Linked DNA regions of Homo sapiens: region 2 is linked to region 1. Evidence: fine-mapped expression QTL. A gene starts in region 1. The other region holds a variant in brackets. All regions are shown on one strand. Distances are from middle to middle.

Region 1 (5,387 bases):
AATTTGCATTCCTAGCCTCTACATTGCTTTCAGATATAAGTTTAAGAGTGCACTATGGGAATAGGGGTTCTTTAATAAAATAATAGAAGTAGAAATAGAGAGATGGTTCCAAATTTGAGAAAAGCCTGCATAAAACTTGGCCATGGGTTGAATGTTAGAGGTGCATGAGAAGGAAGGGTCCCATATGAGTTTCAAGTTCCTGGTTTGAACAACTGGTGACGGTGGCACCAATAACCAAGTTACACAAAACCGGAAGAGAAGCAGGGTGTGGAAGTATAGCATTTTCAGCTCTGGGAAAGTTTAGAATAAGGTGTCTCTGGGAGATGGGAGTGAATATTTCAGTAGGCTTAAATAATGAAGTTTGGTACTTATTTGGGTAATCAGGATTTGAGACACAGATTCAGAATTTTTAATATAAATGTGGATAATGAAGCTGTGGAAACAGTTTCTACAAAAGCAGAATAGATTACAAAAAGAAAATTATATGACCAATCTATGAGAATTCTCCATAGCCCATTTACCCACGTTTGATCCTACAAAATTAATGTCAAGGAAGATGTGGGTCAAAGAATGCTCTTCCTTTAAAAACAGCATTACCTGGAAAGGAAGAAAGTACTCCTTGAGAGTCTTGCATATTAAGGTAATTTCCAGATGTTTGATCTATGAAAAGATAAAGGGTATTGAAGTAGTCACTTATCATCTCTGGAAAACTTTACCCCAATCTGTAAAACACTCCCCACTAAAAATTTCTCCCATAACACTGACTGACTGACTGACATTAAATAATGTTAAAGATGTTCTTTAATTTAGAGAGTGGTGGGAGGTAGAAAATGAAAGAGGCATTGGTAGAAAAATACGTGTTTATTACACATAGATGAAAACAGAAACATCTGCAATGTCTGCTTAGACAGGCATAAGCTTTCCCTAACCCTTAGAACAGAAGGCTTTTGCTTTCAAAGAACATCTCCCTCTGAAGTGGCTTTAGGAAGTGCCACAGACATCAATGACTGGGAATCCACCAGAACTCTCATCCTCACCACGTGGTAGGTCCAAGTGGTCATGAGATTTGGCCAGCTCAGTTCCTGAGCCCTGTATTGGGCCTGAGGAGGGTTGCAAGTGGAGGATTTCCAGGCCTCACAGCATGACCCACAGCCTGGTAACAGGCAACCAGGTGATCTTACTCAAAGAAAATACAAGGAGGCAACTGGAGGAATGAGCCCATTAGAAATCTTCACTTTTCTATACGTTCAATGTGTTCTCTGAGTGTATCGCCATCATTGAAATATATTTTATTCTTTTGGGAGGGTAAAATTTTGGAGAAAAGTTATAAAAAGTATTTGATTATAAACCTTAAAGCTTCATGTGACTTTACAACTACATAAGTGCCTACAGACCCCTTGCACTCAGCAAAAATAAATCCACAGGTAAATATTTTGCCTTGCCAGGAACACTGGAAAACACAGCATGAAGCTTTTCAGATGGTTCTCAAGAGCTTCAGTAAAGGAGCTACCACATACTCAGAACAGGAAATGAGCTTTAATCAGAAGAGTGCCACTGAGGATTAAGGAAAAGAATCAAAGGAGAGTCAAGGGACATGCAATAGGGACCCTGCTACAGAAATATGGCCCTGAAGCCAGAAATAAGAAAGTTTTCTTCCAATTAACATGACTAGTAAAGAAATCAAATGTTAGGCACGAAGACAGGCCCTAGGTGAACTTGAGTGTAAGTCACTGACCCTTACCTGCTGAGAGTCCCAGCGTCCCTGCCAGGTAACTGTCTTCTTCACAAATGTATGTGATGCAAATTTGGCATGCCTGTGCCCCTTTCGGAATAACGGAGTCAATCAAAGCTCGGGTCTTATCCATAACTGTAGCATTTTCACGTTTTACTTTCTCCATCTCTTCCTTGTTCAGCACCCTTGTCTGTAATAATTCATCCAGTAAGCCATTTATTGTACCTTCACCCATGGAACGGATAAACAGCTTTCTCTTCTCCTTCAGGACCTTGTCTGTTTAGAGCACAAGGATTTCTCACATCATGAAAACAGCCTCATATTCCTCTCATGTAATCAACAGAAAGTGACCTCATTTAGATTTCATCAGTGAAATGTCCCCCTCCTCACAGTTGGGTAATCCCTCTTCTTACTGTATTGCTGTCCTACTTGTTTCCCTCAATAGTCTCCATACATGTGCATGGAGTGACCTGAAGACTGAGTTTACCATTTCCACATCAGTCCCTGGAAAGCAGAGATCATCCTCTTATGTCGCATGTTTATTTAACTCTGGTTAATAAAGTAATGAAGCAGAAATAGCCCATTTCATTTAGGAACCACTGCTGCTAGTACTCCTCCTGTGCCAATTCTGTACCCTCTGTCAGACTTTCAACATGTAAGTAAGAGTTTAATTAAGATTGCAAAATGACATCAGGCTTCCCCTAAAGCCTCAGTTCCTTTCTGGGCTTGCCTTTCCTTTCTAAAGTCTGCAAGAATCTTCTAGTTCCTTCTCTCCTCCCTCTCCCCCCTTTTCCTTGCTTCTACTCAAGTAAACTTCCACAGATGCTAATTATGGCTTCCAGAAGAGCCAGCCCCTTCCAAAACTCTTTCTTCCCAGGGACCTGTTCTTGGAACAGTAAAAGACTCACCGGCCATGGCTTTTCTCTCCTCCCTTCTTGTGTGACTGAAACTGAAAGTATGCTTCGCCTTCCTTTTTGGCAGGGCCTGTACATGTATTGGGAAATACTCACTGTGCATGCATATGCATGTCTTTATTTTTCTTCCCATTAAAGAATCAGAACTGTAGCCTGCATCAGGTAGTGTATCCATGGGAAATTTTCTTCACCAGCCCTTGGATAGATCAGGGTAGGAGGGGAATGGGGCTTGGAGAGTAAGACAGGATTGAAAAAGTATGTGTACAATTAAATTCACACAGTGAAGAGTTTCTCAATCATTAGAAAGCTTGACGGAGAAAAGTAACACAACCTTTGGAGTATGTGAACCACTGTTCCCCTGACCCCACCTCATAGCTCTTGGGAAAGTTGTGGGTAATGTATGTCCCTGTGAAACATTTTTGCTTTAAGAAATAGAAACATTTTTCACCAGAATTAAAGCTTTTCTTATTTAATGTCCTTCTTTTCACATTGCTTTTTTCTTTCTGTTTTTTTTTTTTTCTGATACAGGGTATCATTCTGTCGTGCAGGCCGGAATGCAGTTATTTGACCTTGGCTCACTGCAGCCTCCACTTCCCAGGCTCAGATGATTCTTCCAACTCAGCCTCCCGAGTAGCTGCAATTACTGGCACATGCCACCATGGCCAGCTAATATTTGTATCTCTTGTAAAGACAGGGTCTCCTTGTGTTTCCTAGGCTTGTCTTCAGCTCCCAGGCTCAAGCAATGTGCCCACCTTGGTCTCCCAAATTGCTAGGATTACAGGCATGAGCCACCCACCCATCCTGGAGGGTTTATTTTTGAGGGAAATTGCATTGTAGAGGCCCAGAGCATAGGCTCTGGAATGAGAATGTCGAACTTAGCATTTTAAACTTCCCTTCCTTGGCAAGATAATGAACTTCCCTATGCATTGGTTCCTCTGTATGTGAAATAATTTTATTAATAGTATGTACCTACACAGTTTTGAGCATTAAGTGAGAGAAAATGTGGAAAATGCATGGAACATAGCCTGGCAAATGGTAAGCAAATAATGAGTGATATTATTATAATTAATACAAATGTTTAAGGTTAGAAAAATAATCAAGGATGATTATTTGCAGATTATTTAGCTAAGTTTATCTTTTGTTAGAATCCTCAAGCAGTGCATCTAGTCATTCATTTAGCAAACATATACGGACGACATTGCTCTAGGTGCCAGAGGTTCAGTCAAAACATATCATGGTCCTTTCCCCTTTGGTCTCACATTCAAGAGGGAAAGACAAACATGAAGGCTGGTGATATGGTCTGTCTCTGTTTCCCTACTCAAATCTCACCTTGAATTGTAATAATCCTCATGTGTTATGGGAGGTATCTGGTGGGATGTAATTGAATCATGGGTGCTGTTTTTTTTCCATGCTGTTCTCTTGATAATGAATGTCTCATGAGATCCGATGGTTTTATAAAAGGGAATTCCTCTGCTCATACCCTCTTGCCTGCACCCATGTAAGACGTGTCCTTGCTCCTCTTTTGCCTTTTGCTATGATTCTGAGGCCTCCCCAGCCATGTGGAACTGTGAGTCTATTAAATATCTTTTTTGTTCTATATAATTACCCAGCCTTGAGTATGTCTTTATTAGCAGTGTGAGAAATGACTAATGCAGTAAATTTATACTGAGTAATGGAGTGCTGCTGTAAAGATCTCCAAAAATGTGGAAGCGATGTTGGAACTGGGTAAAATGCAGAGGTTGGAACAGTTCTTAGGGCTTAGAGAAAGATAGGAAAATAGAATCTGGAACTTTCTAGAGACTTGTTGAATGGCTTTGACTAAATGCTGCTCATCTCGAATGAAGATAGGAACTTGTTGGGAAGTGGAATAAAAGTGACTGTTGCTGCGTTTTAGTGAAGAGAGTGGTGGCATCTTGCCCCTGCCCTAGAGATCTGTGGAACTTTGAACTTGAGAGAGATGATTTAGGGCATCTGGCAGAAGAAATTTCTAAGCAGCAAAGCATTCCAGAAGTGATTTGGGTGCTGTTAAAAGCATTCATTTTTATGTATTTGCAAAGATATGGTTTGGAATTGGAACTTATGTTTAAAAGGGAAGCAGAGCATAAAAGTTTGAAACATTCGCAGCCAGATGATGTGCTGGGAAAGCAAAACCCACTTTCTAAGGAGAAATTCAAGCCAACTGTAGAAATTTGCAGAAGTAACGAGGAGCCAAATGTTAATCTCTAAGACATTAATCTCCAAGACAATGGGGAATATGTCTCCAGAGTATGTCAGAGACCTTCCAGGCAGCCCCTCCTATCACAGGACTGGAGACCTAAGAGGGAAAAAAATGTTTTCATGAGGTAAGCCGAGGGCCCTTCTGCTGTATGCAGCCTAAAGGCTTAGTGCCCTTCTTCCCGGGCCACTGAAGCCATGGCTAAAAGGGGCCAAGAAATAGCTTGGGCTGTGACTTCAAAGGGTGCAAGCCCCAAGCCTTGGCAGCTTCCATGTGGTGTGGAGCCTGTAGGGGCACAGAAGTCAAGAATTGAGGTTTGGGAACCTCTGTCTAGATTTCAGAGGATGTATGGAAATGCTTGTATGTCCAGGCAGAAGTTTGCTGCAGGGGTGGGACCCTCATGAAGAACTTCTACTAGGGCAATGCAGAAGGGAAATGTGGGGTGTGAGCTCCCACACAGAGTCCTCACTGGGGCACTGCCTAGTGGAGCCATGAGAAAAGGGCCACCATCCTCCAGATCCTAAAA
Region 2 (5,387 bases), 150 kb after region 1:
TTCTGAATTTCAAGGTTGTCAACCATTACCCTGGACTAAAATTAAGAACAAAAGAAAAGTCTATATGCCGAGGTCTGGGAACTGAAGCCGTTCTGCCTCTAGGGAACTCTCTGGCCTAACCATGGTGCTGATATGAATAAAAGATTTATACTATTAAACATATATAACATAATAAATAATTATTTTTAGGTGAAAAGTGAAAAAGATATTGGATCAACATCTTAGAGACCAATTAAATTTTGAAATCAACCTGATAGTTCCATAAATATATTTTTGATTCTGGACCCAGTCTAAAAATTAAAAGAAGATAAAGAGCTAATTCTTTTCAATGCCTTAAATTTTGTCTTAACCTTTTCTAGAACTGGAGATGCATATTGTTATAGAACAGATTCATTTTTTTATCTCATTCCCCAGCATACGTTAATAAATATTTATTAATATATTATTTTCATACATGTCTAAAACAATATTAATTGTAACGGAATGGAAATTAGCTCTGCATATAAATAAAATTTTCTAGTATAATCTGGATATCTGATCAATATTTTGTCTCTCTACTGATCTCTCTATCTGAAATATATTTTTAAGCTTTTAGCCATAAAATGTTCTATCTGGTTGCACAGGCTTACAAGTATGTTTTTTTTAAAATAACTTTGCCTTAGACACAGTTCTATCATTTCAACCATTTGCTGCACCCATATACATAAGAATATTTTTCTGTTCAGATTAAACTAATAAAACTAAAAAGTGATATAAATACCATATGGTACACTCAGTGACATGCATGGTATTTTTAAAGGAAGGGATATGACACTTTGGGGGATTCCTCTTATGACTTCTAAAGATTATTCTAATGGTGTAGATATAGAATCCTCTGGTCAATTGGATAAATGCCAAGCATTTAAACTCTGCTTGCTAATATTTACATAGCTACCTTTCAGCCAGCGGGCCACTTGCTTTCCTTTTATGTATTGAGAACTAGAGCTGCCCTGTGTTCCCCTGAAATTGCGGAATAAACTTATTAAAATGAATGATAATGCATTCGCTGGTAAATTTCACAAAGTGTGAAGGACACAAATATATGAACAAAATAAAATTATGTATTATTGAGAAATGGTTTATATACTTCCAGAGATATATTGCTCCTGTACTTATGTAGAAGTAGAAATAAAGATTAGCTCTTTAACATATTAATTGATGTTTCCAGTTTGGGACCGTGAAACATCCCAGAAACAGCTGATTGCTTTTTTAAAAAAGTCCTCTGTCTTTGTTCAGCTAGTCCTACAATAGTAACTTACTCATAGTACACATTTATCATATGCTAGCAGTCTGTCCAGAATAACTTCGTTTGAAGAAAAGATAGGTCAAGTGCACATTCCAGGGAATATTTGCAAAATAATATGTATTTTCTTGCAAAATTTTAAACAATTAGCTCTTAAGGTCACTTTCATATCACCCAGCTCTGCTAGTTTTGTTCCCCTTCTAACATATTTTAAAAGTATGCTTGTTTTAAAAGTCAAATAAATAAGATCTATGATAAAAATACAAGATAATAGTTGTGACAAACTATTCTGAAGAAGTAAGTTTCTACTCTAGGTGCGGGCAAGATCCTTCTAATCAAAGAGGAGTTCTGTGTTTATCTCTTTTGAATAATTGTGCTTTAGTTTCTTCATTTATCTATCTATTATTACTGATTGCCTGGAAGTGTACAGAAAGTCATGTCAAGGACTAAAGCAAACTCCTCTCAAAATATTCTTCTTGAATAAACTAGATTTTAATATTAGTTAATATTTATGTGTACGATGTGTTAAGCATTTTAGTATGAGCTTGTTTCATGGCCAAAATAATACTGTGAGAGTATGAGATATCATGTCTTCATTGTAGAAATGGAAAAATTAATCTGTGAGCAAGGTTGTGCAGGTTTATTAAAGTTGAATAACCACCAATTGCTAGAGTGAGAATTAGAAATCAGGATTGTCGGCCGGGCGCGGTGGCTCACGCCTGTAATCCCAGCACTTTGGGAGGCCGAGGCGGGCGGATCACGAGGTCAGGAGATCGAGACCATCCCGGCTAAAACGGTGAAACCCCGTCTCTACTAAAAATACAAAAAATGAGCCGGGCGTAGTGGCGGGCGCCTGTAGTCCCAGCTACTCCGGAGGCTGAAGCAGGAGAATGGCGTGAACCCGGGAGGCGGAGCTTGCAGTGAGCCGAGATCCCGCCACTGCACTCCAGCCTGGGCGACAGAGCGAGACTCCGTCTCAAAAAAAAAAAAAAAAAAAAAAAAAAGAAATCAGGATTGTCTGAGTCCAGAGTCTATGATCTAAACCACTCATAAAGACTGCTTTTTTACACTTATATTTCCTTTCAATGGGTTATTAAAGTGAAAGCTAAGGTCTCACTAAACTATTGCTTAACAGATATTCTATTAAGATAATTCATAGCCTTTTACAAAGACAAGACTAAAATACGATTAGCAGAAAGTCTTCTGAACAACTTGGCCTTGAGCCAACCCAAGTTTCAGAGACAATGTGAATGATTCAGCCGGTGCCTTATAACTGAGATCCAGAAATAGCTCTGAATCCTACAAAGAACTAAAGAAGTATATTCTCTAGCAGACAATGAGCAATAATGAGCTTCTGATGAGCCATATATAAATTTTTAAAATATTACAATATTTTTAGCCTATTTTAAGATATAAACATGTTTCCAAAAATACAGATTGTGCTTCTGTTTATTGATTTATTATCATTTGGTGGTCTATTCAAAGATATTCACAGAGTCAATAAATTCTGATTATTTTTTCAAGTTAAAAAGCAAAGGGATTTTTTAGCAAAAACACAGCCTCCCAGAGTACAGGGAAATGATATTAAGATTACCTAATAGGGTTATTGAGGAAGTATGTGTTACAGAAACATGTACTTCTGCAATTCTTGAGCAAGAGCTACTGAAGCCAACCAACAAGAAACTCTTGTCAGGA[A/G]CCTGGCATTATGTGAACTTATCCAGTATGCTTCTTGGAGATCACTTGACTCTAAATATAAGTGACAAACATCACCTTGTGTTTTCTGAGCAGGACGGAAAGGTGCAAGCTAAAATGTGTTGTTATGATGCTAGTTGGCTTTGAAATTACTTTTCAAACAAAGATCGCTTTTGATGAGACCTAATCTGATATTCATGCACAGAAAGTGAAGATATAGCAAGTATACTTAAAGAAAACCATGACTTAGAAAGCAGAACAGTTATATTTATGTTTGTAGAGACTAGGAGAGATAATTATCTTAGAAGTGATTTAAATGCACAGAAAGTAAGTGCCCAATTTCCAAAGAAGAATTAGAGATCTCTAAAGCCTTTATTAGAAAATCCTTGTGTTCTTTTTATGAAATGTCAGTGAAATGAGAGATTGTCATGACGTTAAACCAGAATAAGAATTTAAGGAATGGAGAAAAGCAATGATGAAAAAAAGTATGTATCAACGTTTGATCTGAAATTTTCCTCTTCTTTGGAAAATGTCAAATTTTATGTGCATATTACTTGAGCTGAAATGTAAAATCTTAAGGTTTATGCTGAAGCTTCCTATGACTCTAATGAAAATTTAGAATGTGAATAAGAACTTTTTAGAAATACTTTCTATTGTTATAGCTTCAATAAATTCTAAAAATTGTTTTTACATAACATCCATGGCAAGAAAAAATGTCTATACTAATCATAACATTCTTCTTCCATACTTCAGTATGAGAATACAACCATATTATTTTCTAATATTAAGGTCTATTTATTGATCCTCAGCAGCATTATTACAGTTTTCTAATCTTTATTAAAATCACCCTGTGCACAAAAACTGTTCTGACATTTAACTAATTTCCAAACATCTTAAACCATTCAAATATAGTGTCCATTGAGTATAATTTGACTTTTACAAAACTCAGTTGAAAATTCCTTGTTTGCCTATTTGTTTTACTTGTTTACATTTGTTTTTCTATCATATGCTATATTTTCTCTATTGTGTAAACCAGGGAACAGAGTTTGCAGACTTTGGTTACCACACGCATACCTAGGATCCAACACAATAGCATTTCTGAATTTATACCAGAATCAATACACTAAAAAGTATCTAGTGCACAGTAGGCACTCAATAAATGCTTGTGAAAATGGAAAAATATTTACATATAAATTTAGCAGTTAAGGTAGAAACTTATTAATTAGTGAAGTTCTCAATTCTTCAGATAATTTTGGAAGGGTATTGTCAAGTGATTTATCCTGATTTTATTCTCCTTGCAATCATTTCTCCCTATTCTCCAGTTCTAGGATTCACATAATTTCTCTCTGACACAAATCTGTCCTTTTAGCTCATCACATATTTTTCAAATAAGTTGTAAATCATTTTACTTATTTTATTGTCTGTCAATTTATTTCTCTAGTAGTCTCAATTTTTTTACTTGGCCTCACTGTGCACATACATAACAGCACATTCTCAACCCCTATCCCTGCTTAAAAAAACTGGTTACAGTGTGATTTGGATTTGAAGCAGTGGATAATATACATGCAACCGAAACATTTTTCCTTTTCCTTCTAGCTACAGTAAAGTCAAGGTCTATACACCAAAGATAGAAAAAATGAGAAAAATAAATGGAAAGAATGAAGCAAAAAGAGAGCCATGAAAGATACAAAGAGATGTATTTAGAAAGTAGAAGGATCAAGACACTGTGTGCCTCAGAAAAAAAGAAGGTAAGCAGCAGTCGACTATATTTTTTAATTGAGATTTTCTTATCTAATTGGAATTATCCATGTAAGGAAACGAATCAGGAACTTGGTTGCCAGATGCAGAGAAGTAGATAAGATTTTCCTCTAGCTATATGCTTGTGCTTTTGGCCTGATTAGCAGCGGATTGAATGATGGCCCTCCTCAAAAGGTATGTTCATATTCTAATCCCTGAAAAATGTAAATGTGACCTTGTTTAGAAAAAATCTTCTTTGCAGATATAATTAAGCTAAAGATTTTGAGATGGAATAATTCAGAGGAGGAGAAGATATGAAGCAGAAGAGAAGAATCCCATGTGAAGAAGGGTACAATGATTGAAGTTACACAGGCGCAAGTTGAAAAGGCTGAAGCCATCAGAATGTGGAAGAGGTAAGGAAGGATTCTACCCTACAGCCTTCAAAGGGAGCATGACTTTGCTGACACCTTGATTTTGGACTTCTGGCCTTGAGAACTGTAATATAATAAATTTCTGTTGTTTTAAGCTATCAAGTTTATTGCTATTTGTTAAGAGAGCAGTAGGAAACTAACAGTATGTATATTCCTTCTTTAGTGACAGTTACGAAGTAAAAAAAAAACAAGAGAATATGGAAACTGCTATATACTAATGATTTTTTTCTGCCCATATCCATCTG

The links. PIP is the estimated chance that this variant, and not a neighbour inherited with it, causes the effect.
Region 2: its variant is fine-mapped to the expression of CASP1 in whole blood (INTERVAL, PIP 0.98).

Annotation. Positions count from the first base shown.
Region 1 is chr11:105,032,467-105,037,853 of GRCh38, forward strand. It overlaps CASP1 (caspase 1), which reads right to left and starts at 2,678. Exons shown (of 9, transcript NM_001257118.3): 1 at 2,641-2,678; 2 at 1,742-2,008; 3 at 598-660. The coding sequence starts at 2,647. LOC124902742 (a long non-coding RNA gene) reads left to right here. Exons shown (of 3, transcript XR_007062869.1): 3 at 3,175-3,215. RefSeq lists an enhancer at 2,757-2,806.
Region 2 is chr11:105,178,800-105,184,186 of GRCh38, forward strand. All of the region lies in intron 4 of LOC105369468 (a long non-coding RNA gene), which reads right to left. It overlaps LOC105369469 (a long non-coding RNA gene), which reads left to right. Exons shown (of 5, transcript XR_007062872.1): 3 at 4,571-4,722; 4 at 4,974-5,124. Among named protein-coding and RNA genes, the nearest start is that of CARD18, 42 kb to the left of the region's middle. The variant A/G (reference allele first, on the strand shown) is at 2,978.